Linked DNA regions of Homo sapiens. The protein of the gene in region 1 purifies or fractionates together with the protein of each later gene. This does not show direct contact. Each region holds a gene or a part of one and is shown in the gene's direction. Other genes may lie near its edges. The genes, in order: MAP4K4, STK24, RAP2A and FGFR1OP2.

Region 1 (7,000 bases):
CTCAGGGTCGCAGTGTCTCTTCATGTGTCACAGACTTGTCCATGAATGTGGCAGGTTGTGAACAGTCGGTGAAGTGAGATGTCAGTGGCATCCTAGTGCTCACTTCACTCCTTTCATTTTAATGTAGGTTTGAAGTTTTTTTTTTTTCAGTATGAGGTAAAATTCTAGATCAACAAATGTATATACACAGATCCTTGAGCTTTGGTGTAAAGACACATGTCTATATGACAAAGTCTTCTTTAAAGGGGTCAGTCCAGAAAGCAAGCCTCTAGTTAAATAAGCCTGATTTAAAGAGTTTTGGGAGGGAAGTTATGTTTCTACAACTTTTATTAATAAAATATTAAACCTAAAATGTTGATTTTAGTAAAATATTAATATTTATTACTAAAATTTCATAAATATCCTATAACTAGTAAATAAAAACATTAAATATTAAACCTTAGCGCTTTGAAGTTTTTAATAATAAAAGTTGAAGTAAAATAAAAATGTGTCTCTCAAAACCTTTTTTATGAGTCTAAAGAAGACTTTGTCATGTAGGGAGATCTCCTTACAACAAAGTCCAAGAGTCTGTGTATATACATTTGTTGATCTAGAATTTTACCTCATATTAAAAAACAACAGTAATACTATCAGCTTAACATAAGCAGATCTTTTTTTTATTGTCATGGGATTTGAACTGTATATGACATCTTTGACTTTTTTTTGGTGTCTTCTATTTTTTTTTTTTAATCTCTCTCTTGACTTTATTTGGTCTTTTCTATCAAAAGCCATAGGAGCTCACTTTCTCATGAAACTGGGTAACTATAAAAGTCTTACAAAACTGACATTGTGGCAATTTATGGTTAAAGAACTTCTCATCTTCTCCTGTCCCTGCTCCTGCTTGCCTTACTCTCTCTTTTCTGTCCTTTGCTTTAGGATCTGACCGCACTGGCCAAAGAGCTTCGAGCAGTGGAAGATGTACGGCCACCTCACAAAGTAACGGACTACTCCTCATCCAGTGAGGAGTCGGGGACGACGGATGAGGAGGACGACGATGTGGAGCAGGAAGGGGCTGACGAGTCCACCTCAGGACCAGAGGACACCAGAGCAGCGTCAGTCCCCGGTCTCTTTTAGAGCGGATGAGAGTATTCTCTCAGAGCCTGCTTTCCACTGGGACCTAGTTGTTCCTAGACTATTCCGTGACCCCATGAGCACTTACTATGTAGTTCTCGTGGATTCAGCAGCAGGTCGCCTTGTGTTTCCCCTTCTCTTCGTTGGTGTGTGCATATGTCAGTGCTTCCCCCAGCACCCCAGCGTGTACTTTATTTTTTCCTTTTGATTTGAGGATATATGATCCAGGGGAAATTTCAGTTTGGTATAACTACTTTAATTAGCCATAATTATTCATTCTAAGTTTTTGCTCAGAAACAAATGGCACTGGAAAGAAATTCTTTGTTAAAGGGAGAAAGCTAAGCAGTTGCTTTTTTGGAGGAGGCTTTATATCGGTAGCCTCATCTCATGTTTTGATTTTGAGAAGGCGAAAAGCCTAAACAGGATCTCCTTGACTCCAGAGATTAAGGCCTTTCACGTCTGGATTTTTTCTCCATAGGTCATCTCTGAATTTGAGCAATGGTGAAACGGAATCTGTGAAAACCATGATTGTCCATGATGATGTAGAAAGTGAGCCGGCCATGACCCCATCCAAGGAGGGCACTCTAATCGTCCGCCAGGTACCCGTGTCTTCTCTGTTGTCAGAGGCTGAGCTTCTCCTGTGGTCATTAACCCACTTGCTCATTCACTCACTCATGCTGTTTCTCCATCATCATCTGTTTTCATGTTAACAAGTCCCAGAGGGTCAAGTGTCGAGTGTCGGGGGCTAGGGAGGCAGGTGTGTACTGCATGCCCAGAAGGTAGCGAGTAGTCTCCACCCCACATCGCTGCTCCTCTGCATGTCTGCGGCAGCCCTCATTCAAGCACCGCGCTGAGTCTCACAGTCTATGTCTGAGCGGGAGAGAAGCCACAGGGAGTCCTTAAACAGGCTCACAGAGTGAGGAAGCAGGTCTGGAGTCTGGCAGAGCAGCCACCATGGCTCTGCAGAGCACGCTGGGCTCTGAGTGTCTGCAGTGCCACAGTGGGAGCGGGTGAGGCAGGCAGGACGAGCCTCATCACAGGCCCAGAGACTCGGAGAGCAGAAGGGTTCGGGAGGTTTCTCTTCTATGTTCCAAAATGTTAGTTTTCTCACTTGTTGAATAATTAAATGTGTGCCACCCAGATATGCTCAGTTTGGATCACTAAGCTTTATAACTGTCTGTTCATTTCTTAGCTTAGACTTAATTAAAGTGATACGCTTCTCATTTAAATAGAACAGGGCACCTATTTAGTATTTTGGACTTTGCCCTAAGTGTGTTTCATGCTATGGCAATGCATTCGGATGGAAAGTAGGAAGAATGTGGAAAAGACCAGGATTCAGAGAATCCACAGGTACTTTCTGGAGCTTTGCAAAGAAAGATTTAAAAAGAAAAAAAAAAGGATACTGGTTTTGGTAACAGAAGCTAGCGCAACAGATAAACCAGATTAAACACTCACTGCTCGAGCCGTGCAGCCACCAGATTAGGTACTTTGAATTCTGTTGGCACAAGTTAGGCATTTGGTGAGGAAGTGTGAGCAGTTCAGGCTAATTTCTTTGGTTTTTCCTTGGTAATTTAGCAGAGTTTATAAGTCACACAGCACCTTAAAGCAGTTATCAATAGGGCCATAGGCAATTTTAGCAGCGCTTGAGCGAGACAAGTGTGCCTGTTTTTTCTACAGAGTACAGTTGACCAAAAGCGTGCCAGCCATCATGAGAGCAATGGCTTTGCCGGTCGCATTCACCTCTTGCCAGATCTCTTACAGCAAAGCCATTCCTCCTCCACTTCCTCCACCTCCTCCTCCCCATCCTCCAGCCAGCCGACACCCACCATGTCCCCACAGACACCCCAGGACAAGCTCACTGCTAATGAGGTATGTCTCGCACCACAGCTGGCTGCTTTCCTGGGGTTAGACCAGCACTGCCTAGGAGTTAGTTTGCAAAGGAGACCTTTCCAACACCCTCACCCCTTCCCTTCCCACCCTGCTTTCTCTGTCACCTACCCTTCTCCCCAACCCCAAGTAACATGTTTCAGATCTGCATATAAACCCCTTAACCCTAGATCAGCTCCCCCAAACTTGCCAGTTCACTGTTTACTGTTCTGTAGATAAGTATAGTTGCATGGCTTTATCTAGTTTATTTTTTAAAAATCTAAATAAAATGATTGCTCTGTCCTCAGACCGGTATTATGTATTTGGCATGAAATTCTTATAGTCATTTGTGGAATCTGCCTTTTTCATTCTTTTTATCCAATAAATAAAATATAGGAAGATTCGGTTCAGCAGGCTTGGCCTTATCTGGACAAACTTATTATCCTGTACAGGAATCTCTTTCAAACAGAACTGATTTTTTTTTTTTTTCTTGTTTGGGGGGTGGGTTGTTGGCTGATTACTCTTACTTGTTTTCACCAACCCTGTTAAGGAGTTTGTTCTTTGACATTTACAATCACTCAGAGGTTTAGAAGCCAAATTATTTTTGGGAAACCTAGAAAAAATTAGGATGTTAAGCAAGAAGGACAAAGGTTTGAGCTTGTTTTTAATTTAAAATTTTGTGTGGGAAATCTGTGTGCTCCTTTGAAGGCTTGGTTGTGGTGCTCGGTCTGGGTGTTAGCTCAGTCTGGGTGATTCTTTGCTCTTTGAACAGGGTTATACTCCAGGTGTAGTGACATAGCCCACTTGAGCACCCGTATTGAATTAAACAAGTGATTTGATTCCACAGAAGATTTGGTTTAAGTGTCTTTATCTACCAGTTGAGGGAGGTTAGAAAGAATCAGAAAAATCCTCTCCTCCGGAGGAGCAGTGGCAAGTCAACTGCTTCCTAGACAGGCTTGGCATCGGCTAGACTGGCTCCTGACTCATGGGACAGGGAGGGAAGCTGCCAGGGGACAGATGTTCAGGTGGGAAGCTTAGGGGAGGGCATGGGCTCTAGGACATGGTGACCCTCAGGTGTCCATGGAGGGGGTCCAATGGTACAGGACAAAAGCACTTGATCAGACATGTTCCTTTTTTCTCCTGAGGTATATATCCCACCTACACTCACATTCTTCCTTATATTTATATTTTAAACTTTGCTCCATTTCGCTCTAATGTGCAGTATTTTACTATAACCCTTAACTCACTAAACCGGCAAATTTATTTTTCTGTTTGTTTTGTTTTTAATTGTCATTACATTTCCACTTAACAATTTGTTTCACTTCCTTTGTGTTTTTTTGTCTTAAGTTACATTATTAACCAAAACACTAGTGCTCCTAAAAGATCAAAAAGATACGCCTTCTTTTGTCATTTGCACCTTTCACTAATGAGTCCTCATTTGGTATGGGTTTAATGGTGATGCACCTAAAACAACAGTAGCCAAAGCTTCTGTAGCTTTCTGGCAAGAGGCTCAATTTAAAATAACTACAATTATTAACAATTGCCAATATTCCAGCATAGATTATTTGGACTCTTGGGTAGGAGAATAAATTCAGAAGTTGGTGAATTGAGATCAAGACATTTCAGACCTCCTTTAGGAGTTTCATTATAAGTATTTACTTAATTTTTTTTTAAAGCTAGGCACATGAAGTCTAGATTTCATTGGTAGCTTGCAGCACTGCTTTGTAAGTGAGCAATGTCTCTGGTAGAGATACGGCTCCTGCAGTGGTTCCAGGTAAAGCTGCCCTGAGGGGTGCTATGCCACGTGGAAGCTCCCCGCAGAGCATTTTTTGGGGGAATGATGCAAGGCAAATAGAGCAAAGTATTGGGAAATAGTGCAATATAGAAGTGAATTGAAATGTGTATTTTTAATGTTCATTTTTAAAATGCCAGTTGTATTAATAACATTGAAATTTACATTGCAGACTCAGTCCGCTAGTAGCACACTCCAGAAACACAAATCTTCCTCCTCCTTTACACCTTTTATAGACCCCAGATTACTACAGATTTCTCCATCTAGCGGAACAACAGTGACATCTGTGGGTAAGTACAGTAGCAACAAGAAAGCAGCTGACAAATGGGACTTTATCTTTGAGTTGCTCTTTTGGGTGGCTTAGGTGTAGCTGGTTGTTCACAGGCACAGACCTCGGGTACAGAAACTTCCCATCCCAGTTGTATGCCTTATTTGCAATGAGATGCAGAGTCCATTTCCTTTTTCCATATACATTGCTTACAGATTTCTTCTCTTTGACAAAGTGTTGGTTATACCACATGAATATTTACTTGAAGTATACTGGGGAAGGGAGGCAGGCATAGTGTGTGTGTGTACAGAAAATAATTTCAAATATATTGTGTTTCAGTGGGATTTTCCTGTGATGGGATGAGACCAGAAGCCATAAGGCAAGATCCTACCCGGAAAGGCTCAGTGGTCAATGTGAATCCTACCAACACTAGGCCACAGAGTGACACCCCGGAGATTCGTAAATACAAGAAGAGGTTTAACTCTGAGATTCTGTGTGCTGCCTTATGGGGTAGGTGTCTAGCCACTACTCCAACACTTTCATTTTTGTTCTGAGTGGTGGCTGGTCTTCTAGAGAAGTACTGCATTGAATAGTTTGTGGATAGACAGGATGGAAGACTTCTATGATGTCCATCTCCTGTTATATGCAGAGTGGTATATTAGCAGACTGGTGTGGCACATGTATATGATTGCACTCATTTTAACTGTCAAATATTGGCATGATTAATCTCCATTTTATTTTTATTAAACAAATTTTTGTAGTAGTTTTGTTACGTGGATATATTGTATAGTGGTGAAGTCTGGGTTTTTAGTGTAACCATCAGCCCATTATACTCAATAGTGTACATTGTACCCCTGAACCCTGAGGTTGACTGTTCTCACTATAAAATTCAATCATATCTAGCAGTGGAAATGTTGGAGAAGTATATTTATAAAAACTTACTGCAACATGCAACCCAGTGTTTTTCATTTTTCATGCTTGTAATTTCCAAGTACTTTACAGTGACTATTCTTTTGACTATTAGCATTCAGTACTTTATAAAATTATACAACTGTACAATTATACAACTTGGAAATATATCATGGAGAAGTAGAAGATAGAGTGTAAGTGCCACAATACCTGCAGCTTTTGTGTTTTGAAAAGAGTCTTCAGCTTTATCTTGTTACTCCCTCATTCTTTCTCACTGTAAAATCTTGAGGTTGATGTTTATATGTTAGTTTTTAGAAACACACATAATAGGATTTCTTCACAAGGCCCATATTTTGTGTAGTTATTACCAGATTCTTGACATAGGAGTTTAAAAAAATCTACTTGATACTGAAGATTGACCAGGAAAATATCAAAATATTGTGTAAAATAGAACCTTTGAAATGGTATCTGTCTGGCAGCAGTTCTATCAATAAATATCTGTCTTTTCTACCAATAATTTCTAAGCTGTTTTAGATCAACTTGCCTAGATATATGCAGGGAAACCTAAGCATAATATTCAAATAAGTTCCACCTTGACAAGGATATAGTCAGGGCAGAATGGCCAACCTCAAGAATAAAATTATATGAAAATGAATCACATATTACATATTTAAATATTTTTCTTATACTGATAATCTTTTTAGTTGTACAGCATTTTTTTTTTTTTAATCTCTAAGGGTTAAGTCACTATGCCCACAAGCATTGCTTGGGTAGATACTGTCCTCCAAATGTTGGGATAATCCCAACTCAATCAACTCTATAAGGACCAGGCATGAACAGAGAGAGGGCTGTAGGAGCGTTGTTCTCTCAATGCCGTCACAATTATTTATTTCAGATTATCTGGAAATAGGGTGTGGGTGGGTGTGGGCATACATGTATGTGCCATGATATTCTTCCGCCTCACTCCCTCTACACAAATACTTTATTCCTTGTCTTGGTGAGTTTATGACTGAGGAAATCAGTACACACAGATATGTGCCCAATTCCCTAGGAAT
Region 2 (8,112 bases), on another chromosome or scaffold:
AGCAGAAGTGTGCAATGTGAAGTGCGCAGAAAGGTCCACAGGCCTTGGCAAGGGAGAAGGAAGCTCTCATTCCTGAAGCTGAGCCTGGAAGACCCAGCTAAAGGGGGGCTGACCAGACACACATTTGCAGAAAAGGAGGTGTGTTACGGGCTGACTTGTGTCCCTCCAAAATTCCTATGCTGAAGTCCTAATTCCTAGTACCTTAGAATGTGGCTGTATTTGGAGATAGGAACTTTAATAAGGTAACTAAGCAAAAATGAAGTAATTGGGATGAGCCTTAATCCAGTACGACTCCGGTATCTTTCTAAAAACAAAGAATTAGGGCCAGGCGTGGTGCCTCACACACTCTGGGAGGCCAAAGTGGGCAGATCACTTGAGGCCAGGAGTTCGAGACCAGCCTGGCCAACATGGTGAAACCCCGTCTCTACTAAAAATACAAAAATTAGCCGGGTGTGGTGGCGCTCGCCTGTAGTCCCAGCTACCAGGGAGGCTGAGGCAAGAAAAATGCTTGAACCTGGGAGACAGCGGTTGCAGGGAGCCGAGATCTCACCACTGCACTCCAACCTGGGCAACAGAGCGAGACTCCATCTCAAAATAAATAAATAAATAAATAAATAAATAAATAAATAAATAATAAAAACAGGAAATTAGGACACAGGAACACACAGTGAAGACCACGAGAACACAGAGGGAGAAGCTGGCCGCTACAAGCCCGAGAGAGGCCTCGGAAGAAACCAATCTTGCTGACACCTTCATCTTGGACTTCCAGCCTCCAGAATGGTGAGGAAATAAATTTCTGTCGTTTTGGCCATCCAGTTGGTGGTTCTTTGTTACGGCAGCCCTAGCAAACTAAGGCAGGGTGCAACTGAAAACCTACTTAGGGTGATATCCCTGCAAGAGCCTGCCCTCTGAGCTCTCCACGCACAGAATGAAACCTTATTGGTACCATTCCTCAATGTAGCTGGGATATTTTTCTGGGGCTTTGGCATACCTTTTCTTGCTATTGTGTCATCCAACAATGACTAGACATTCTTCTTTAAACTGATCTTGATAATTTGTCTTCACCTACTGAACATGTGTAGAAATTTGTCTAAGCCTTCTGTTAGTTACTTATCCAAGCTACTCCTATTTCTCCCTTTAAAGTTCACCATGTAAGTCCCTTTCTTTAATCTCTGAATTTAAATTGCTAATGCTCTACTTGTCTAGCTGTTCTTTATAAAGCAGCATTTGGGGGTGTTTATCTTTTCAACTTAGAAAGAAAAGTGAAGGGATTGATTGTGGAATTCTTGTTTTCTGTTCCTCTCTGAGCTCTGCTGAGAGTGCGTACAAACTAGCTTAGGGGCAGCAAATACATAGGGGCTTTATATTTGGAGGGGCTCCATATAGGGGTATGGAAATATTCTTTGTGGTCCAGAATATATTTCAGATCATAATTCATTGCCAGACTGATGTCCTTAAGTGAACACAAAAGACAAAGAGGACCAGGGAAGAAAAATAATTCAATGGATAAAGTAAATAACTCAATGGGTTAGTATCTCCATGGAGACCATAAAATGCATCATCTCTATGGAGACTCTCATAATCTCCTTCTGGACTTACGGTAGTGTATAACCTGTTGTAATCATACATTGGGGGTGGAGGGAAAGTGACAAGAGGAAGAGGGTGAGAGGATGATCCTTTTCTTTCCTTGGTGGAAATGATAGCTATTGCCACTCTAAGTTTAATCAATTATGGTATTGTATTCATCCAAAGTTAGGATTCTGGGAGACCAGGTCCCTAGGATGGGTTAAGAGGCACCTGAGGATCTAATGTTTATATGCCCAGTACTGAACTGGGTATCTGACATGTATTAATAGTTGGTATTCAAAAAAGGTGTGAATGAATGAACATAATAGGCAATTGCACCGGATCTGATCCCGGGCTCAGGCCCTGTGCATCATCTCTGTTGTGCAAAAACAAATAAGGTGGAGACCTACTTCTGCCATGGGGAATACTCGGTACTACCTGCATAGGGCCAAGGAGAACCAGTAACTCCCATGTTGCTTCCTTCCCTTCTTTCGATAAGAATGGTGCTCAACAGTATGAACATTGTCAAAGGATGAAACAATGGTCAGTGTGGAGAGAAGATAAACAGGGTTCGGGGCAACAGACCAGCTAATGGATGCAAGTCACTGTGTCCAGAGAAGTTACATCCTGCCGGAATCTCCCTGTTTTGAGCCTCACTAGCCTCAGGACACAAACTAGGATTCCGGTTATTTTTTTATACCCAGGGTACTATGGGCCTTTGTCCCCCATCTGCTGTGACTTATTTGCTGGCAATTAGCCCACTGCAAAGTGATTTCTGAGCATTTACCATGGTAATGTCTCAGATCAGCATCCAGACATTTCCATCCATTCATCTAGTTTCTTGCTCTTTATCTTGGTGCCAGGTTATTGCCCTGGCTCTGCTGACCCTAGAAGAATATTTTTACTGTCCCTTTTCTATGCTTAGACATGTTTAGATCCACAAATATTTACCATTGTGTTATAGTTGCCTCCAGTATTGAGTTCAGTCACATGCTGTTCAGGTTTGTGGTCCAGGTGCAATACGTCATACCATATAGCCTAGGTGTGTAGTAGGCTATGCCATCTAGGTTTCTGGAAGTACACTCTATGATGCTCACGTGACAAAATCAACTAAGAACACATTTCTCAGAATGTATACCCATTGTTAAGCAATACATGACTGTGTGTCTGTAGGCCATATATATTAATATATATATAGTCATTTGAGATCAGTCTATATACAGTGTTTTGTACCCTGTATTTTCTTTAATAATATATAATGAATACATTTTCCCCATTACTAGGTACTGAAAGACATAATTTTAAATGACTACATAGTACTCGTATGAAAATGCTATTATTTACTTAACCTCTGTGAGACTTTTTGGCTGTTCCGTTTCCCCAGGATTCTAAACATCACTGTGTCTTCTTACATGCATTCTTCCACACTTCTTGGTTGTTGCCTTAGGATATGTTACTTTAGGTAGAATTCCTGGGCTGCGCTGAAGAATAGAAACATTTTAAAGATTCACATTCTTGCTTGTTTTGCTGTTCGCCTCTTTAGGTACCATATTTTTTAGGTGTACAAAATTTATACACCTGATTTTAAGTTCCTGGGTATCAGGGTTCATACTTCTCTTAATTTTGTATTTCCTTGCAGTCCTACTTACGGGTGGCAGGGCTCCTCAAGGGATGGGTGTACCAATGACAACCATGAAAGTATTCTAAGGTATTCCCTAGGACTCCGAGAAAAAACATGCATCTTTCCAAAGGGAAAGAAGGGATTAGATGTTAGCATCCTACTCCATGTCAGATCCAGAGCACCCGGGGGAACTGAAGTTCGTGGATGGAATACAATGACACCTCAGAAAAGAAATACTCCTTTGGTGGAGGCCTTTAAACTTTTGGGGGCTCATTTTGTCTGCCTAACTCGCCCAGCCAGGGCGCAAAATGGCCACTTAGGAGCATGAGTGAGGTGCCAGCGTCCCTACAATCTAAGGAGCAGGGAGTCATCACTGGGGTGGCTGCCGCTCTACCTGTTTGCGACTGTAATAAAACACCTTCTGGAGGCCGAGGGACCCGCTTCATCCTGACTTTTCCCCTCAGTAGCTAGAGAGAAGGCGGCTGAAAAGAGGAGACAGAACTGGTGCTGAGTGGGCCTGGAGCTTCCGAGGCAAGGGAAAGAGGGAGAGGGCTGCAGTTCAAAGTCCAGACGCGCTTTCCTTCCATTCTCTTCCCTTCCTCCCTGCCCTCTGCGCCCCATTTTCCCCTTATCGTGGGTGGGGGCTTCTGATTTGCTGCGGATCCCAGAGATGGTGGGGTTCAGCCTCCGCACTGCTTAGCTAAGTTCCCAGCCCAGCAGTCCCAGCCGGGCTGTTTTCGGTAACCAAAGCACTAGGAATTAACCTCTCTCTCGGCCTCTTCCCTTTCGGTTTCCTTCTTGGGTTGGCTGGAAACTTCACCCAGACACCGAAGCAGCTCTGCCCGGCCTTTTGGCACAGGCCACCGGCCGAGGCCCCACGGGGCGCTCTCCTTCCCCAGGTGCCCCCGACTCCGATCCTGCCCTCAGGGGCTCGCCCGGGACGCGTTTTCCCAGAGGCCGCCGGGGCGGGGTGGGCTGGCTGGCGGGAAGAGGGGGCCGCGGCCCAGGCTCGCCCCGGCGCCGGCCCGGTGGGCACGCGGCCAGCCTCCGGCCCCGACTCGGTCCCTCCCGGCGCCCGCCCCAGCCGAGGCCCCCTCCCGGCCCCGCCGCCCGCCCGCGGGGGCGTGGGAGCGCCGCAGGAGCAGCTGGGACCCGGGCCGGGCCGACAGGCGGCGGCTGCGGCCTAGGGCTCCCGCGCGGCCACCGGCCTCTCCCCTCCCCCTCCCGGAAGCGCGGGGCGGGGTCCCCGGCCGGGCCGTGGGGGCGGGCGCGGGGGCCGGGCCGGGGCGGGACGCGCTCGGCGCTCGCGGGCTCGGCGGGCTGTGCGCGCCCACTCCGGCTCCAGCGGCCAGCGCGCGCGGGCCCAGGCCGCCCGGCTCCAGCCCAGCAGTAGCGGCAGCAGCGGCGGCGGCGGCAGTGCGCGCGAGGCCCTGCGCCCCCAGCAGCTCCTCCCTGGCGCCGTGCATGGAGACGCGGCCCGCCACCCGCCGCTGAGCCCCCGCCGCCCGGCCGGGACCCGCCAGGGCTGGGGTGGCCTCGGGCTCCGGCCGGCCCCGCCGCCCGAGGGCTGCGCGCGGCCCGCGGGCCTCGCCGCCCCGCGCGGATCGTCGCGGCCCGGCCGTCCCGTCCCAGGAAGTGGCCGTCCTGAGCGCCATGGCTCACTCCCCGGTGCAGTCGGGCCTGCCCGGCATGCAGGTAGGCGGGCGCGGGCCGCGGGGCCGGGATGCGCGACCGGGGCGGAAGCAGCAACTTGGCGGTATCCACACGGCGTCCCCCTACGCTCAGCCGGCCGGGGTCGCGCCGGAGCCTGGCTCCCCGCGCGCCCGGCTCGGCCGGGGGTCCGAGTCCGAGTCCCTGGGCGTCCCTGCCGGCTCCGGCGGCCGAGGTCTCCGGCGTGTGCGTGCAGGAGCCGTAGGAACCGCGGCCTGGGTCCGGATGTGGGGGTGCGGGCGCCTAGTCCTCCGCGCTCCCCTCGCCCCAACACTCTTCCGGAGCTGCAGGCCCTGGGTGGCCCTGTCCCCGGGAGAAGTGAGGTGGAGTGATGCCCTTGGAGGCCCCCGCCGGGTCCCGGGGCCCTGCGTGGTGGCCGGGTTGGCGGAGGGCCCCAGGACGCGTCCCCCAGGCTCGTCCCCCACCCCCGGGCAGGCGGGCGGGAGACCTGGGCAGGGCGGGGACGGGGAGCGCGCCTGGACTCGTCCGGGCCCGAGCGGAGTAGGCAGGGTGGAGTGGAGGAAGGTAACCGCGAGTTCCACTTGCAGTGGCTTTGCCCGGAGCCCCCGTGCACCTGCGGACCGGGGGAAAGTGCGAGTTGCAAACCTTCTGGAAGGAGGAATCCCTCGGACAGCCGCGCACCAGGGTCCCGGGCCCGGCCCCGGGACCCTGGACTTTCACTTTGAGACTTGGTTGCATTTACAGGAATTCTTCGCCCAGTAAACCTCTCTTTCGGTACTTGGTGACACCTTGGCCTACCAGTGACTTTTTGGGGAGTGGGAGAGGAGTTGAATTTCAAATTTACATGTATAAGTTAAAGGTTTTTTGTTGTTGTTGTTTTCGTTGTCGTTGCTTTTAGCCCTTTGAAAAACAAAGCTACCGTCCTTGGCTAACTCTTGTAAACTTTGTAGGCGCAGAAATGGTGGCAAAATGCTTAGGATGGAAATCTTAGGATGCAGTTAGGATATGTCATGAAAGTTTGCTCTGCCAGTTTAGCTGAGTGAACGTTAAGTGTTTGAAGAAAACCAAAAGCATCCAAGTAGATTACTGGTTGATTTACAGGTACCAACAGGCTCCTTCCCTGTGTCTTGAGGGCTGAGAAGCACAGAGCCCAGACCTGGGACTGCCTCTGGGGTCTGCTCGCCTCTTCCAGTGAGATCATCCCTCTCCCTTCTTTTTTTGAAACCGTAAAAAGAAAACTGGATTTCACTGTTCAGGTTTGAATTCTGGAAAAATAGGAACTCAAAGTTACCACTTTAATGGCAGCTAGAATTTTAGTCCAAGTGTGTGTGTGTGTATATGTGTGTGTGTGTGTGTGTGTGTATATATAAGCAGTATATATATGTGTGTATATATGTTTAAGCAGTAAATAAATATACATTTAAGCAGCAACAGTTAAGTTATTATCTTAAGAGTGACTGGGAAGATGCTTGAAGAATATTCTTTTGTCGACTCTCATTTAAGGAGCGTTGAATTTAGCATGCATTCAAAACCTAAACTTCTGCTGACTGCTGGGTAACAATCAGATGTGGTTTCTTGGTATTTTCTAAAGCCGCTTTGGTATGAATTTAGAGGTGTGTAGGTCAGAGTGAACTGGGTGAAAAAAGTAATTTCTTACTAGTCGAGCAAGAAAGGACTCTTGTAATGATTTAAAAAAAAAGTTTTATCAATATTTCCTTTAGGTTGATATTTATACCGTGTTCATCAGGTTGGAATCTAGCACAAATGCCTCACTTACTAGGTTAATTGGCCTTTGTGGATAGCGAATCAGTTTGAAAAGGTACTAAAGCCCCTTTGGCTGGTGCCGTGAAGTCAGTATCAGATGGTTACCAGGTGATATCTAGTATCTCACCTTTTCATTTTTATCCTCACTTTTTTTTTTGAGTGGGTCAGAATTCTTAAACCTTGGGAAAAGAAGATACATTTCCTTAATAACTTTGCCTCTCAACTATTATGTATCTGTTAGGTTGTGTTACATGGGAACTGTTTTTATTTTGTTTTCTCAGTATGAAAGATCTTAAGTGTTTCTCAGTGGAAAAGATGATCAGATTTTCAGCTGTTACAGTTTTACAGTTTTAGAGGTAGGTAAGTTGGCTTCTGCCAGTCATTCCTGTACCTAAGTACATCTACAGACTGTATGGTAACAGTGTATCATTTGGGGAAGAACATTCTTTTCTCCTCCCCCACCCCACAAAAGAAAAACAACAGCACATTTATTTTCTACTTCAAATTAGCAGTTGCTACTGCCCTGGGAGGCTTCCCTAAGAGTTGTTGCTGAAGATTCAATTAAAAACACACCTGCTTTCGACTGTTGTCTGCTAAATGGGAGGAGAGAAGTCCGTATCTCTTCTATGGCTTGCTCTGATAGGCCTCATAGCCCTCCCTTTTTCTTGTCTCCTGACCAGGGCTTATAAGGAGTTGGCTTAGAAAGACAGCAGAGTCTGTAATCTCAGCAGTTTGAGAGGCCGAAGTGGGCGGATCATGAGGTCAGGAGATCGAGACCATCCTGGCTAACATGGTGAAACCCTGTTTCTACTAAAAATCCAAAAAATTAGCTGGGCGTGGTGGCACACGCCTGTAATCCCAGCTACTCGGGAGGCTGAGGCAGGAGAATCACTTGAACCCGGGAGGCGGAGGTTGCGTTGAGCTGAGATTGTGCCGTTGCACCCCAGCCTGGGCGACAGAGGCAGACTCCGTCTCAAAAAAAAAAATAAAATAAAAAAATAAAGCAGAGTGAATTCAGGTGGCCTAGGCAAGGATGCTTGAAAAATAACAACCATGTTAGTATAAACACCATTTTTCAATGTTTTGCAAATCATTTTTATGCCTCTTGATTCTTACCGGTACCGTTTGAGATGTAGATGATATTATACCATTTTGTAGATGTGGAGACCAAGGAAGACTTAACTGACCAAGGTGAGATCATATATTATGTGGCAAATTTGTGATTGGAAACTACTACTCCTCCTACTCCCACTCATCATGCAGTGTTACTGTTTTATGGTTACTTTTGCAAACATTAAAGTTTATCTCATTGCTAGTTAGATTGGCTAAAGAAATTAGAAATAGGAGGCTGATTTTTTAATTTATTCAATCAGCAACCCTTATTGAACTTTCATGTGCCAGGTCCTAGGGGAGGGGTTGAAAGTGGTAGATCTGAATGAGGTTACCATTTAAAGTAAATGTTTAATGAAAGTTGCTGAAGCCTTTGCTTT
Region 3 (8,556 bases), on another chromosome or scaffold:
TGGGAATGTCAGTAAAAACTATACATTTCATTCTCATTTACTTGGAAAGTGTTTGTTTTTGTAATTTCATTCAGTTATTTAGTTATATATTTTGTAATATTTTATTATTTATATAATTACTATATACCCTTTCTAATTCCTGATTTTTCCTTATTAGTTTTAAGCATAACCATTATTTTATAATATAAACATGTAATTGGTTGCTTAATATCTGTCTCTCCTGCTAGAATACAAGCTCTTTTGGCTAATTGCTTATTGTTTTATCCCCAGAGCCTAAAAAATATACACAGTAATTACTCAATTAATATTATAGTATCTTTGAACTATCGTTCAGATATTAGTGAAATGAAAGTGCTCACAAATGCTTGCTGATTTTTTAAAGCCCGATTTTGGCTGGAATCCCTCATACTTTTTGTTAACAGGTGGGATGTATTTTGCTGTAAGATGCAGAAAACCTTACCAACACACACTTAAATTGAAAGACACCAGCTGTTTACTTAGCCATAAGTCCAAATGTGGGCAGTTCTAATGTTGGTTTGACTGTCCAATGTTGTCATGCAGGACCTAGGTTCTTCCCATCCTCCTCCCTGGCCATCCGAAGTTGCTGGCTTTCTACAGTATTGCACCATAATGTCATAATGCATCATAGCCCCCAAATGGAGGCCACATTCTCATATTTCAATGTGTAAAGCAGGAAGCAAAGAGAGCGACATCAGAAAACGGGGATATTTCCTCACTCTTGTCAATATCCTAGAAATCCCTCCAGCCCTAGCAGCCTTCTCCCCATTCCAATGACAAGAACTGAGTCACGTGCCTACTTTTGGACTAACCGTGGGCAGAGGGAAAGCAATGCTATTAAAGTCCAATCCTGATTCATCCCAGCTTCTTTGGCAAAAATAAAGGGAAACTGCTGGGTACGCAAGCAACACTGTGCCTGCTCTTCTGCTTTGTTAAATGAACCACACTGAAGCTCTGTTTTCCGCAGAATCCTCTAGCTCTTAAGATTCTTCAGGCTTTTTCTTTTTTCTGCCTACATTTTAATCATTACGTCTTTTCTTTCAGATTTTTTTTCTGATTAAAATGGCCTTTTGAAACATCTACTCTCTCCACCCATACGTTTCTTTTATTGAGTTGTTTCCATACTCTTAATTTCTGCATTCTAATTCCTTTTCTTTTCAAAAGCACTGAGACATATCACATTTTTTAAAGGAAGAACAAAGTTTATTTTGCCCCTTCCTTTCCACTCCACATATATACTGCAGATTCTCAACTGTATTAGGAGCCTCACAGGTCAAGAAACCATCGTCTGCTCTCCTTATACTTGCCAGCAGCGTTTCACAGGTGCTAAATGTACTTGACATGCCCTTCCCCTTTATGTTTAATCAGAGGCATGCAGGCTTTAATAAGAAGCATTAGGAATCAGGGTTTTACAGTCGAAAAGTACCCCTCGCATTACAAACATCCTCTACTAATTTGTTTCTATTAAATTATCTGCATATTTGCTTCTTGCTGGTGTCAGGAAGTCCCAGAATACAGTACCTTTCCCACTTCATACCACCTTTTCCAACACCTTTTACAGAAAGAAAGGATGGACTTGGGTTTCCACGGTAACACAAGTGCGATAATTGAAGGTATCTGGCTATAGGTGAGATAACTCCCTTTCAGATTTAGTGGAGAGAGGAGAAATGAAGATTTTCTTTCTTTTTATTCTCCTGGCAATGCACTTTGGAAACTAAAGGGATCCTGCAGTGTCAGTTACTGCGTTAAGTTTTCACTATCTTACAGATTTACAGCTCTTGGGAATAATTCAAATTTCTTTTATATCATTTTTATTTTTTATTTCCCACAAACAAATGAAGATATAAGTTATTTCTATAATCATCTCAAAATAGAGTTTATGCTGGCATCGGAATGAACATGACTAAGGGGTTAGAAAATAGACATCCATCTCCCACCCAAGTCCTCTAAATTCTCTACACGTCCTGACATCCTTTTTATAGCAGCTAATCTTTCACCCAACATTTCACCTACAACCACAAATCAGGTAAGTACCATCATTTAAGCCAGAATAGGTGAGAAAATATGCTCCGACCTGTCATGTTTCTTTTGCCTCTTGGTGGTTAAAAATCAACCTTTATGGTACTGAGCATGAAATCTGAGGCCTGTCAATATAAGGCCTGTAAATAAATGAACTGTAACCACCCCAAGGGCTGCAGTCTCTATACCCCTTCTTATCAAAAACGTCAGCATTGATGAGAGGTCAGGGGAAATAGCCTGAGAAATGTCACAAAGCTGTCCTACTCTGTATTATGCTAAATGGAGTGACTACGGAGCCCACTCACTATTTTTGTGACAGCTTCAATCCAGAGCTTCTCAACATCTAGGGACCTAGGAGTCATGAAAACAGTTACTTAAGGCAACCTTCTGGACCCCACAATCCCAATACAAATTTCTCAAAAACATTAATCACTGGAACTTCATTCCTTGCAAAGTAAATGGACTTAGAGCTCCTTTGTAATGCAAGGTACTAGATGAGTTGTCATGATCTAGAGAGAAAGCTTCACGCTTCCTGGCTCTATTTAACAACCCTAAGAACTTCTTATCACCAAGATGCACAGTTAGAATCTTAAGACAGTCTGTCTTTCCTTGGAAAAGAAGTATAGCTTCTACTAACCCAAAGTAACCATGAATAAGCATACCAATTTTACACAAAATATGAGACTTCTGGAAAGCTAGGTGAACACCATACTTACCTACATCCTCTTGAAACATCCCTGCCAAAGTAGCTCAGATATGAAGCATCCATGTAAGCTCTTTCAATTTTAATTCACTATTTCATGTTAACTAGCCTAGGATGAAATAGTAGATCCTCTTCGGTTCCAGTTCCCTTAAAACAGTCCTGATTCTTAGTCCTTTTTATTAATATAATACCTTCACTGCTGATTCTGGTGGCTCAGATAGTACCATTCATATTTTAATGATATGTAATCAAGAAATGCTGAGTTATATTTTACTACATACACATTTTTAAATTCAGAGGACATTTGTCCTTGATAATTTTAAATGAAAACTTGGTGTGTGTTCATTACAGCAAGGTAATGCAAATATAAGTTATCCATTCTAATATAACGAAGCTATAGGGAAATAAGAAACTACTAAATTTGAGTAGTCTTTGTAGTAGTTTGACTATCGACAGAAAAGATGGTGAAAGAATACCTGGCTTTTAACTCAGACCAAAATCCCCTCTGCATGATGACCTTGTGGGAAAGAGGAACGGGGAGAGGTATGCCAGGCTCTAACAACAGAACTACAGAAACGTGTTATTCGCAGGAAATGTGCGACAGTAACGAACAGGTGAGACTAGTTTGAGAAGGACATAGTTTAAAGAAAGTAAACTGAATAACCAGTTACTGCAAAAAATAATGCAGGAAAGCTTGGGGATGTATCGTCTCCTAAATTTGACGTTATGGGTGGGAGAGGATGTGTAACTAAGATGCAATGCTAGCGACAGAACGCTAAGTTTTAAAACTCAATAGTGAAAGAAAAAAAATAATGTTTTGGGAGGAACGCCTGGAAGACCCATGCAACTGCTGCACGATGTTTCCTTAAGGACCGGAACATTTCTCACCCTGAAGACAAAAGTCCCTGTGTTCTCGATTCAGCCCACATCCCTCAGCACCATTTCCATGCCCATCATTTAGGCAGAATGCCACGGAGGCGACGTGAAAAGTGGAATTCATCATTCTGGCTTGCAACGCATCTTGTTCTTTTGCCAGAACAGGGCACAGCAACTGGCTCCTCAATCTCTGCCCCTCCCAAACCCCAGCAGCCGGTCCCTGTCTCCATCCCGCCGGCCTCGGTGGCAAGGGGCTCGCGAGCTCTGGTTGGCTTGGCCGAAGCTTCCGTCACTCGCCAGCTCACCTACGATTGGTTGGCAGAGCGTGCGCGAAGAGCCCCGCCTGGCAAGGCACTGGGAGGTGGGCTTGCGGATCCTACGACTAGCGTTTTTCTCGATTGGTTGAAGGAGTAAAGGCACGTGGTATGGGGGCGCTCTCTTATTGGTCGTGAATGGTACCTTGTGGTACAGAGACGTGATGTGGTTGGCTAGAATGAATCCCAGCTTCCCACTAGATGCCCCTAGCTGGCTGTTGCTATGAGGAGTCCAGGGCCTTCCGGCTGCCGTTCGGGATTCCGCTCTCCAGGTTTTCAACTCACCCGTGGCTGACAGGGCGTGGGAAGAGCTCGACTTCAGTTCGGCACCGAAAGGGGCGGGTCTAGAAGAAATGTGGGCGGGTCCAGAGGGTTGGTGGGCGGGACCCCGGCGACGTCAGCGGGCTTGGACCCGACTTCCGTGGTGTGTGGCCGCCTCTGACTCGCCCCTCTGGCGCGCTGCTAGAGGGGGGCGTCACCCTCCCATCAATGTCCTAACGCTCCAAAGCTTCATTTTGTTGCGTTTACACAACTTCAGTCAGAAGCCTGTAGGTGCCCCCCCCTTAAAGCTTCACATGCTAATACAAGATAAAACCAAAGCTCTAGGAGTGCTGACAGACTGGGTGGCATCGGACAAAGGCCCTCGCGGCCCCTCTTGGGCCTTGGGCATCTCTCCTTCACTCCCCGCCTCAGGATAAAGCTTGGAGGTAGCTCTAGCCCCTCTACCATCTCATCCCTTCCGAATTCTTAATGTCTCGGGAGTCTCAGGTTGACGCTGCTCCTGGCTTGGGCGGGAACTGCGCATGCTCGGTACACAGGCCCTGGGGTCTGACTGGGCGCGCTGGGTTCGGCGCTGCTCGGCGGTCGCGGTGCTTGTTTATCTCCGCGCGGGCAGAAGCTTCCGAGCCCCGCAAAGCCTCTCGGGAGCGCTCGCGGCCCGTCGCCTAGGGGGCGGGGGCGGGGCTGCGCCGCGGGCTCCGCCCCGGCCGCCGGACCCCGCCCCTGGCCGCGCTGCGGCTGGGGCTCGGGCGCGCGCTCGAGCGCTGGGGGTAGCGGCGGCGGCGGCGGCGGCGGCGGGCGGGGATCTGGGCGTGGAGGCGCGAGGGGCGGGGCGGGCGGCACTGCGGGCCCGCGGCTCGGGCGGCACCAGCGGCTCCCGGTCTCTCTCTCTGCTCGCCCTCAGTCCCACCCGGTGCCTACGGGGCCGCATCGCCGCCCGGCTCGGCCCGGCCCATGCCCAGGGCCGCTGCTCCCTCAGTTGCCGCCGCCGCCGCCGGCGCCCAGGGGGCCGCCGCGGCTGTGAGGTGGGGGCGGCAGCGGGAGGCGGCGGGGCGGGCCGCCGGGGCCGGGGCTGGGGGCGCAGCGCGGCCGGCGTAGGTCTATGTCGCGGGCGGCGGCGGCGGCGGCGGCCGCGGAGGGACGATGCGCGAGTACAAAGTGGTGGTGCTGGGCTCGGGCGGGGTAGGCAAATCCGCCCTGACCGTGCAGTTCGTGACCGGCACCTTCATCGAGAAATACGACCCCACCATCGAGGACTTCTACCGCAAGGAGATCGAGGTGGATTCGTCGCCGTCGGTGCTGGAGATCCTGGACACGGCGGGCACCGAGCAGTTCGCGTCCATGCGGGACCTGTACATCAAGAACGGCCAGGGCTTCATCCTCGTCTACAGCCTCGTCAACCAGCAGAGCTTCCAGGACATCAAGCCCATGCGGGACCAGATCATCCGCGTGAAGCGGTGAGCGAGGGCACACGGGGGCTTGGCGGCTGCACCCCGGAGTCACCGTCCCGGGGCTGGAACTCCCCGCGCGGGGCTCCGGGGAAGGGGCTTTCTGGGGGGTGGCTCCAAGCTGGAGGCTTTACTATTGTCATTCTGCTCCTCCTCCTCAATCTCAAATTTGAGTGCTTTGTTTCACAACTAAAATTTGGCATCGTGTTAGCCCACAGAACAGCTCTTTGTCTCTTGGACGTTGTTAGCATTGCTTGTTACAGAGCCCCCAAGGAAACAAAGTTTAAAACTTGCAGGGGGGAAAGGGGTGGATAGATTTGTCTTGGGAAGAGAGGAACTGTGCAGGTATAGTCGAGACATTTGCAGACTGAACAACAACAATCTGCCTTGGCAATGTTTGACAGTAAAAATCGCTCACACACCTATACAGTAAAGTCAAGTCCAGAGGAAGGAGACCTTTCTCATCTCGTTAAAGGTTTATGGTTCCAAGGCGTTTTACAAAAATTAAGTCTCTAATTTAGTGCAAAACTTTAAAGACAGATTATTAAATTATTTGAAGACATCATAAGCTAAATGGGGTTTCGAGAATATTAACAGAGGAGTACAAATAAGCCATTCACAGGAAAAGAATGCAGCTTAACTGTTTGTTTTTGTTTTTTTGTTTTTAATATAGCCGCCTTAACCCCTTCCAAAAAAAAAAAAAAAAAAAAAACACCACCACACCACCACCACCAGTTCCTGGAAACAAAACAGAAGCTTCTTCAAAAGTGTGACACAAGTATTAGCTAATTTAAAGTTAATGTTAATAAGCCTTTATATATATATATAAATTCTTTTCTAAAGTATACATTTTGGAAATATGGCTGATAAATGATTTAAAATGTTTGTTTTCTCTTAAATTCACTGAATATATTTTTCCGTGTAATTTTAAGCATTAGAAATGTGATAATATCTTAGTTCAAAGTTTTGGCAAATTTTTCTAATTATCATTTAATTACACATTACTGTTTCATCTAGTTCTTGTTAGTTAATGCCTGCTGATAATTTTGGTGTCCTTTTTTTCCTGCCTTATTCTACCTAGAGCCTAAATCTGAAGACCTTTACTGAAAGATGGTTGTAAGTGCACCGTAGACACAGTCACATTGTAAGTCAGTTTGAGTCCACTCATTTTGAAAGAGCAAGGACCAAGTTATGTGTACCCAGGGGATGATCAAAAATTCATTACGAGTAGTGAGTTTTTAATGCAACCTATGAGATCAAAGAGAAGGCTCTCTCTCTATTGCTCCACCCCCCCTTAACTGAGTATGCACTTTAATCGCTGAACTAAAATCGTGCATGTTATTCATCCTTGTGTTAAATTCCAAACTAGAATAAAGCAGATATTTTCGTGGTCTCTGCTGCTAAGATTTGTAAATTTGATAGCTTTGTACTTCTCCAGTATCATTTTCCTAAAGTTAAATGTTTATAGTTAAGAGATGAACAATTCTGGTGTTAAACTTAGTATGAGGATGGCATTTAAGGGGCTACATTTAAGTTACTTAAATTCTTATTACCCCCTCCCCCAACCACTCAATTAAAAAGAAACAAACCAAACCAACTGCAGGGTAGTCTGATACATTGCCACATGTCAATGTTAGGCCAAATGCATACATCAAAAAATAATCTAAGTAAATGCCCCAACAGCCTCACCCTTCACATTTAGATATATATGCTTAAAGATATGAAGATGCACATATACACTGATAAAGCCACATACCCATGGCTAACTTCTTGACACAAGCCTAGGGAACAAATATGGCAAAATATTATTGGATAATATGGTCCACATAATTTTGTAGTTTCTTGTAATTTAGTGCAGATTACTTTTCTCAGTTATAATAATAGGTTAGTCTAAACTCAGCATATTGGAGCAATTTGTTTATTTTCACTATGACCCAGAGGAAAAACATAGAGTAAAATTCTGCATGCCCAGTATCATTTTACTCACTAGTCTCAGTTCTTGATATAAAAAGATCATTGATCAGCTGAAGTAGAGTTCATAAATTCTCTTCACCAGAATTCAACCGTTGTATACATAAGAACCTCTTGGACCCTCACTTGTGTGTCTTTGTAATATGGTAGTAGTAAGGTATTTTACACCTCATCCTAACCCCAGCGTCTGGCTTCCCATCATTGATGGAGAGGACATGTGAATGCAGGTGGCCTCTTCTTTACCAGTCTTTCAGTATTTGATATCTACTGTCAAATTCAGTATTCAGCTTTAGGTCTAGGTCAGCACTTTTCAATAGAGATATAACGTGAGCCACATATGTAATTTTAACATTCCTAGTAGCTGATTTTTTAAAAATAACATAAATATATGGAATTAATTTTAATGTATTTTATTTAACCCACCATATTTAAAATAGAATCATTTTGACATGTCAGTATTCAAAAATTATTAATAAGGTACTTTACTTCTTTATACTGTGTCTTCAAAGTTTGGTATGTGTTTGACCTACCACATCTCAATTCAAACAAGTCACATTTCAAGTGCTCAGTAGCCGTATGTGGCCACAGGCTGCCATATTGGACAACAGAGGTCTAAGGTGTATATGATTTGGGGAAATGCTTGCTTATTTCTCTAAGCTTCAGTTTCCTTATCTGTGAAATAGAGATTAGCATGCACCTTCCAGAGTCCTTGTTAGAATTAAATGAGATAATGTATTTTAACATTCCCAAAACAATACCAGTACACAGAAATTGCTCAAAAAATTCTAGCTGTCATTCTTACTTTAATAACTTTGTCATTTATCTTCCTTAAATGTTACCCTTGATATAAATGTAATTTTAGAAGAAATAAATTTGTAATTGCATTTTGGAATTCATTACTTAGTATATTCAAGATGAGACTAAAAAG
Region 4 (8,511 bases), on another chromosome or scaffold:
ACTAACCATATATATTACTTGGCTTAACAGTGAATAATACTTTACGTAGATGTTATAATGCCAACATGAAACTTTGAAATAACCAACAATTCTGACATATTAATATTGAGAACACAAGGGAAGGGGACAGGCATTAGACATATGAAGGTCAGAAGTTCAAGACCAGCCTGGCCAACATGGCTAAACCCTATTTCTACTAAAAAATACAAAAATTAGCCAGGCATGGTGGCACACACCTGTAGTCTCAGCTACTCGGGAGGCTTAGGCAGGTGAATCTATTGAACCTGGGAGAGGTTGCAGTGAGCCGAGATGGCGCAATGCACCCCAGTCTGGGTGACAGCAAGACTCCGTCTCAAAATAAATAAATAAGTAGATAAATAAACAGAGAACTCAATAAACAGGAATAAAAACATGTTATTTAGAAATCTGGAAGTAAATATGACAACTACTAAAAAATGGAAGTTTGCTTGGGGGTGCTGGGTGTAGGGAAAGCCTAGAATGGGGATAGCTGTTTTCATATGACTTGGCATTTTAACACTATATGCAAATCCTAGAGTGATTTAAAAAATTAGTCATTTTTTTAAAAAGTATTACCACATTTAGATAATTTACAAATGGCCACAGCTCAAAATCTAACCATACCTCCTGTAAATTTTGGTCTTCTTGAGTCCAAGAATTTAAAACATGTGCTCCAGAGTCACTCACAATAAAATTCACCTAATAGATTCCAAAGAAACAATTAGTATTCAACTCTAATTTCACTCAATCACCAACATATTTTCAAGTAATATGCAATTTGTAACACTGTTTCACTGATTCATTCATTCTTCTTTTTATAGTTACAGAATGTGTAGTATATGCCAGGTGCTATTGCTGGCACTGAGTACATGGGAATAGAGTGATGAATAAAAAAGTTCTGTCACTCACAATGTGGGGAAAGTCAGGGGAGGGGAGTCTACTAGGACAGAAGGCACTGCGGGAAGAATACAAACAAATAAATGAACAAGATAATTTCAGAGAGTGATAAACGCTATGAAAAATAAGTTAATTAGCTACTTTAGATTAGGTGGTTACAGAAGGACTCTCCATAGAAGTGGCAACTGAAGGCAATCCAAAACCAGCCACCGTAAAGTCAGGGATAGACAATCTGGGTACGGCAAATAACAAATGCAAAGGCATCTAAGCATATACCCTGGAAAGGGTGAAAGTCAGAGCAGGCAGTGGGAGAGGAGACAAACTCAGAGAAAGAGGCAGGAGCTGGATCATATAGGGCACCGAAAGCCAAAATAATGGATATGGTCTTTACGCTAAGTTTTAAAGTAAAATGCAAATTTGAAAATTTAAAATTACCTGCTATCAGGTAAGATAATGACAAAGAACATTTTGGAAAACTTATCAAATGATGATTCTGACCCATGTTCCTTTTTGGCTAGAGGGTTAGATTTCTTTCTTTACTCTGGACAACACGATCTAATCTATGATCTTTTTCCCTATATATCGATGAAATACCAGTTTTCCTTCCTCCCCCAAGAAGTTTGATAATTGGTCTTCTCTTCCAAGGCTTATCTGACAGGGATATATTTTACAAGTCACTTTACGTAGATTTATCTCTTTTAAAGCTTACATCGAGGAAGTAAGTGTTATACTTACACGGGAGGAAACTGAGGCTTGGAGAGATTAAGAAATATGATCAAAGTCACACAGCTAGTAGTTAACCACGCCAAGGTCTGAACCGAAGCCTGCGCTCCAAATCAGTTACATTCCCTCTCATTATATATTTTTATCACACACAGAATGCACACAAATTTTAAGAAGGGCTTATATTTTAATTTGGAATATATGTGAATGTATAATATCAGACTATGTTCACCTTTACTCTACTGCCCTACCTTCCTCAGTCTAAGAATTGGCTAGGTCCCAGCGCTTCGAGTAAGACAGAAAGCAAGTCTTCCACTTGTGGCTAAACAAATGACTTTCCCAAAATAAGACATTTAAGATACTGAAATCTAAGATTAAACTTTAATACCTGTAATTTCTGTCAATCATCCATTTCTCTTCTTACTGATAAACCATATCCACTTAGCATTCTTAAAAGTATTTCTTTCTAATATGGCCAAACAATACAGCAGTTTAGTATATATTTGCTAAAATTGCAAGCAGCTAGCCAGCTTAGGTTCAAATTCTGGCTCTGCCTCTACGTAACTATGTGACTCAGGACAAGTTTCTTCTCTTTACCTCAGTTTCCGGATCTGCAACAGGGAAGCAACAAACAAGACTGACAGTCAGCTGCTACATGCCAGCACAGTTTGACAGCAGCTCTCAATGGTCAGTCTGTGTTCTATACTGGTTGTTACATACTTTGAATATTGCTTCAATAACTACAGTTCCTACCTAACATGACTGTTATGAGAATTACGGAAATTAATAAATATGAAGCACTTTGAAATATGTCTGGCACATGTAAAGTGCTCAATAATTGTTAGCTGTTATTATTACTGGCCCCAATTAAATATCCATTATATATTAATCCCAAAGGGCAGCGTTATGTACCACATTTTTAAGTAATAAACACACAGTCATTATCTATAGCAAATTCATATAAAAATTCATTTATGCAGTTAAGTACATCCCCAAAATCATGATTTTGTTTGTACTTCACACTCACCAGCTTTTTGAAAGGAAATATATCATACATTATTCTACAATATTCCATGGAAGATTCTACTGAGCAAGTCCACAATGATTTAGATATGGGGGCCAAAGGAATGATTCCTTGGGTTCTATTCTTCACCAGCATATCAAACTCGACATGCTGCCTGCAAGATTCTGCCATATAAGGGCAGTGATCCACAACAAACACTGTTTTATGAGATTCAGAAAAAATCTTCATTTTGTTTTAACCTGTAAGGGGAAAAACATATTAGCCAAATATTTGTACATAACATCTTACATTTTTTCTAATTTTCTCAAGAAGATTGTCTTTCCCTCAAGAAGACTTGGTAGGGAACATGAATAATATGTTCAAAGAAATCTGTCCGACAAAGGACAGTTTAATGAGGTCATGACCAGAAAGCAAGGGTATCAATACACCATATTAGGCTGTCACTCTACCAGGCCCAGACAAAAATACCAGTGCATGCATTTTTGGTTTTGCTTTTAAAATGAACTTAAAATTGTCAGAGGGAAACATTTTGACATTTAATTGTATTTGATTCCCTTACATATACGAAACATAAGTGACAAAGACTCTTGAAATACAACTTTATGATCCTTGCTAATTGACATTAGTCACATATAAACCCCAAGCCAGCATTTTTGCACTTCCCTCCAAGAAAAACGTTTGAAGGGGGACTGGCGGGTAGGGGTGCGGAATTAACAGGAAAGAGGAGTGACAGCAAAAGAAAAGGCCAAAACAAAGATAAACATCTCCTAAGATAACCGCACATCAGGTCTTCGCCTTAGGATAAGGACCCCAACTTCACACTCTCCCCTTAGCTTTTGAAACATCACAGTAATTTACCAGGTAGAGCAGAAAAACTTAGTTGTTACCATCACACTGGTGTGTAGAAGGAAATTTAAAACTTTTAAAACTTTTTCTTATTAAAACAGAGCATACGGTACTCCCCTGCTTCGCTAACAAAATCTTATACTGAATAGACAATCCACATTCGAAAAGCACATGGCAAGCAAAGCCAAAGTGTTAAATCAAAACGAACTGATTTCTTACGATCCAGCTATTTTCACCTCTTGCTTTCAAGACGCATCTCCCCTTCATGCAAAACTCTCTTTGAGAAACCTTCTAGACCCACTTTGCTGGAGGGTGGGGGGTGGAAAATACAAGGTGAGTGGATAGGGAAGACCTCAGGATCGAGGTTCGCTTACTTTCGTGCCTGGTCCTGCAGTGAAAACGAACAGAGGCTATGGACCACAGCCTCTCTGGAAAAGGCTGCTGGCTGGGCGGGGAGAGTCAGCGCACAGTCGGGAGTGTCTGGTGCCACAGACAGGGGACTATGCTTTCCCCGATCATCTCCTAGCACACCGGTCCTTCCCAGGCTTCCTAAGAGCAGGAGCGCGCGTGCGCGTGCACACACACACACGCACTCGGGCTCGCGCGTGCGCACAGCGCTCTCCGATAGCCCGGCCAAGCCTCCCTTCCCCCTCGTAGGGCCAGGCGTCCCAGTCGCCGAACAGGAAGAGGGCGGGGCCAAGGAGGAAAAAAAAAGCCTCCACCCCTCGAGATTTTCCACCCGCTAATTTTCCCAGTCACCCATTGGGAAGCAGGATCTGGGCGACCTGAAAGCCTCCCCAACAGCGAAGTACCAACCACGGCCCCCTAAGCGTACGACCCACCCACCCGGTCTCCCCTTCTCTGTCTCTCCACCCAGGCCGGTTTCCCCTGGAAAAACTCGCGAGACTTTGCGAGAGGCCGAGCGAAAGCCTGGGAAGGGAGGAATAGGGAGGGACATAGAAGGGCCCCGCCCTGCCTTCTGGGGCAAAGCGGAGAGTGGTCGGTTCTGCCCCACAGTAACGCGAGGAAAGAAATCTCGCGAGGCTGGAGTTCTCCGGGAGCGCCGGTCGGAGGCGGTCGGCGGAGGTGTCTACCCCGCCGGTGATGGCGTTGAACGCCACTGGCTTCCCGGCCTTCCGTCCGCTGCCTCCGTCCGATTCTGCGTCTGCTTGCTGAGGAGGCGGATTAGGGGGGCGCGGAGTCTCTTCCCTTGAGTGCATAGGTCCCGGTTGGTAGAGGGTTTGAGTCCGCATCGCCACAGCTGAAGGCTGCGAGGGACTAAGAGCAGAGTAAGTGGACTAAATCCAGGGACGGGAGCAGGGGTGGGCGAGTCGGAGGCGTCCTTTGCCGGGGCAGTCCTTCGCCGGGGCCGGTGCCTTGCGCCTCTTGAACCACCGGCGCCCGGCCCTGTCCGCTTCCCGCCGCGGGCTCCCTGCTCCTGGGAGCCGGACTTCCTCTCCGCGCCCCCCGACTCCGAGCTCCTCTTAATGGAGATGCGGTGCGGAAAGTTCAATGAAAAGCCTTGGCTCTAACCCTGTGGACACACCTTCCGTATCTGCTTTCATCCTGCCTTACCCACCTGCGAGTTCACCACCGGACGGGGGACCCTTTCAGTCACCTGTTTGCAGCGTTTAATGAAGATAACTTGTTTCTTGAAACTGCTCTCCAAGGGGTATTACTCTTTTCTGGTTCTCTTCCTGCCTTTCTTCTCTATCCCATCTCTGATAATGGTTCCAGTATCTGTCCTGCTATCCGAACTAGAAAACCAGGAATCATCATTGGTTCTTCATTTCCACTTAACACTGCACTGTATTATTTTTTTTTTCGCCAGAATTAGTGCGGTTGCCCCCTCTGCCCCCCGCCCTCCACTGGTTTCCCTACTATAATCCTTCCATAGAGTTATTCTGAAATACATATTTATCTCTGTCCTTTCCTTAAACTTTTTAGTAACCGTATTGCTGACAGCATCAAATCCTAATTGTTAAGCACATCATCATTCAGGATCTTTTACAGTCTGCCCCAATCCATTTTACCTTTTAGTCCTGCTTTAATATCCTACCATACAAGACTATACTGGCTATTTCCCCAAACATGCCATGCGCTTTGACAGCTCTGTACTTTTGTACGTGCGGATGTCTAGGATGTTTACTGTTCCTCTATTTTACCACCTGTCAAAACCCAATTCATAAATCATTGTCTTCTCAGACTCCCCCAGGTGACATTGATACCGCTGTGCTCCCAACGCATTTGAAACTTTTCTTCTGCAGTATTTATTAGGTTGTATTATTTGTTTCTGTCTCTCCTGCCAATTTGAACCTGGGTCTGTCTGGAATCATGTCTTACTCATCTCTGAGAAAAAGTCCAGTACTTGGCACATAGCAAGCATTATTTATATATACATATGTATGTTTATTGAAATGGAATAGTTCTAAGGAATTCACCGTAAGAGTTCTTCATCCTTTAAAATCATAGAATTTTGGGCCAGAAGGAACTCTGTACATTAGCTTAAAGGTCCCGACCTATTTTGATTATGAGAAACCCTGTACTTCTAATACACATGCAATTGGACTTTTAGTAATTGTTGGTTGAAATTATGTATAATGACAGAAAACTACTATGCTTTTAAATGATTTTGTATTTTATTTTTACAGTATCTATTTATATTTGAGAAATGGAGCAGAAATGTTTTAGACTACAGACAGTGCTTGGAGTATGTGCATTCAGGCAACTCTTCTACTGACTCCTTAGCCTGTAGGTTAGAAATAACTGGTTTAGATTAGGTTAGTTCCTTCTTGAACTGTCACAACTCTTTGAACATATGTATGTGAAACTTATATTCAGCCACAATTCTAAGGGAACGTGTAATTTTAAAAAAATCCTCCAGTGTCATTACTTCCAAAATCTTTCTTCCAAGTTTAAAAATTAATTTTCTTCAGAAAGTGTCTTTATACAGTTCCAAACATGTATTCATTCCACTATTTTCAAGGACAGTGAAAATTTTCTTTGCTTTCACATACAGCGATGTGCCTTTATAAATGCTTATTTTTATATGTAATTTATATGCGTTCTTTCTTGCATTCATAAGATTATAAGTTTATATGAAAACCATAACTATACCTTTTGGTTTTTTTATTTCCATATGGGTCAGTTCATATTATGTACTAATTAATATTAGAGACACATACCTGAACATGAAAAAATTTAAACTAGATTGTTGACATTTAAAGACAGATCTGTGGTGTATCAGTAGCCACAATATTTCTGTGTAGATGTAGTGGTAGGAGTAGTGGATTTGCAGATAAGGGAAACAGAAGTGTCCAATCAGTAAACATTCATTGATCTTACAATTAATGTGATGCCTAATTAAAATGGTTGCTAGGCTTTTATTAATTACCTAGAAAATATTTGAAATTTTTTTCGTCTTTAATTTCTCTTACATTTCATTTATATTCCTATTTATTTTCTGAGGTTGGCTTGAAAATTTTGACTTGAATTTCCTTAAATTTTTCTTAACCAAAATCTAAAAGTAAACAGCTGGCAGTTGCTGTCTTGGGTGGGTGGTGGTTTCTCTTTTATCAGCAGCAGAATGTTCTAAGCCTTCTGCCAGGAGTCTGACTGCAAAAGTCTTTGGGTGGTAAAGTGGGCGAGAATGTGACTAATGCAGAAAAGAAAAAAAAATTTTTTAACTTGCTAAAAAAAAAAAGAGATTCACCTGTAATTTGGACCCGCCTATAGAAAATAATGTAAGTAAGTGTATTATGGCCAGTTAAGGTAGGCACTATAAAAATAGGCCGAAAAGTTTAGAATATTCCTTTTTTACTGTAGTCTGTTTTTTAAAATTTGAAACTTGTTAGAGAGTTTGGAAAACAGTCTTCTTCCTCCCACTCCACTTCCTGGCCAAAAAAGAGGGGAAGCACAATGGTCTTCAAAAAAGGTGATAAAGTAAATGCATATTATAAAATATTTTAAACTTTTGTGTGTGTGGTTTCACGTACAGGAAATGAACATGCAAATTCTTAGAAACTGTTGTCACTGTGTTTCTGAAATGCTAAAAAAAATTATGCTTTGAGCTACCTGCTGCTTATAATTCCTTTCCCTGAATAGGTAGGTTTTTATAGTTAACAAATTTTAAATGTAGTTGATTTTGATAGTAGTATTTCATTATGCAATCTGGAGAGGAGAGAGTGTTTTTCATAAAGTGGATATTAATTACAACTTTAAAAAGCCAATCAGTAAACATTCATTGATCTTGTAATTAACTGTGACACCTAATTAAAATGGTTGCTAGGCTGTTATGTCTGGAAAATATTTGAAATTTTTTTATTCTTTAAAATCTGTCTTCATATACATTCCCATTTCTTTTCTATGGCTGGCTTGAAAATTTTAAAAAATATCTTGGATGTTCCATGTGTTGGGTAGGGTCAGAGAACTTACTTTTTTTCGTTTTCCACCTGATGAGATTGAGATTATTTCTATACAGGTAAAAAGCAAACAGGACCCTGGGAATCCAGTGTGGCTTAGGAATAGGACACTAGACTGGGGATCAGAAATTCTATTTTTGGTACTAGTTTGGCTCTTTCCTTGCTTTGTGGTGCTGTCATTCAGCTTTGTTGGTTTGTTTGTTTGTTTGTGATGGAATCTTGCTCTGTCGCCCAGGCTGGAGTGCAATGGTGCGATCTCGGCTCACTGCATCCTCCACCTTCCGGGCTCAAGCAGTTCTCCTGCCTCAGCCTCCAGAGTAGCTGGGATTACAGGCGTGCGCCACCACACCCAGCTAGTTTTTGCATTTTTAGTACAGACAGGGTTTCACCATGTTGGTCAGGCTGGTCTCGATCTCCTGACCTCGTGATCCACCCGCCTTGGCCTCCCAAAGTGCTGGGATTACAGGCGTGAGCCACTCAGCTTTTTAGATTTGGAATTCCTGGGTCTATTTTCTCATTGGTAAAGTGGGAATAACACTTGTCCTCTTGCCCAAATGACAGTATAAGGTAGTTAGTTATTGC

What was found.
Region 2: the proteins of MAP4K4 (region 1) and STK24 purify together in Homo sapiens (affinity purification with mass spectrometry; 2 studies listed by BioGRID and IntAct, with this or other methods). This does not show direct contact.
Region 3: the proteins of MAP4K4 (region 1) and RAP2A purify together in Homo sapiens (affinity purification with mass spectrometry; 2 studies listed by BioGRID and IntAct, with this or other methods). This does not show direct contact.
Region 4: the proteins of MAP4K4 (region 1) and FGFR1OP2 purify together in Homo sapiens (affinity purification with mass spectrometry; 2 studies listed by BioGRID). This does not show direct contact.

The regions. Positions count from the first base shown.
Region 1 is NC_000002.12:101,868,707-101,875,706, forward strand, and holds part of MAP4K4 (mitogen-activated protein kinase kinase kinase kinase 4), read left to right. Parts: intron 1-915; coding exon 916-1,091; intron 1,092-1,588; coding exon 1,589-1,709; intron 1,710-2,787; coding exon 2,788-2,979; intron 2,980-4,940; coding exon 4,941-5,058; intron 5,059-5,375; coding exon 5,376-5,546; intron 5,547-7,000.
Region 2 is NC_000013.11:98,573,515-98,581,626, reverse strand, and holds the start of STK24 (serine/threonine-protein kinase 24 isoform b precursor), read left to right. Parts: upstream 1-4,519; 5' UTR 4,520-4,840; coding exon 4,841-4,882; intron 4,883-8,112. UniProt on the Homo sapiens protein: Serine/threonine-protein kinase that acts on both serine and threonine residues and promotes apoptosis in response to stress stimuli and caspase activation.
Region 3 is NC_000013.11:97,429,119-97,437,674, forward strand, and holds the start of RAP2A (ras-related protein Rap-2a), read left to right. Parts: upstream 1-5,050; 5' UTR 5,051-5,352; coding exon 5,353-5,666; intron 5,667-8,556. UniProt on the Homo sapiens protein: Small GTP-binding protein which cycles between a GDP-bound inactive and a GTP-bound active form. In its active form interacts with and regulates several effectors including MAP4K4, MINK1 and TNIK.
Region 4 is NC_000012.12:26,933,914-26,942,424, forward strand, and holds the start of FGFR1OP2 (FGFR1 oncogene partner 2), read left to right. Parts: upstream 1-4,556; 5' UTR 4,557-4,797; intron 4,798-8,511. Other genes in the region: INTS13 (integrator complex subunit 13), read right to left, coding at 643-717, 2,666-2,890. UniProt on the Homo sapiens protein: May be involved in wound healing pathway.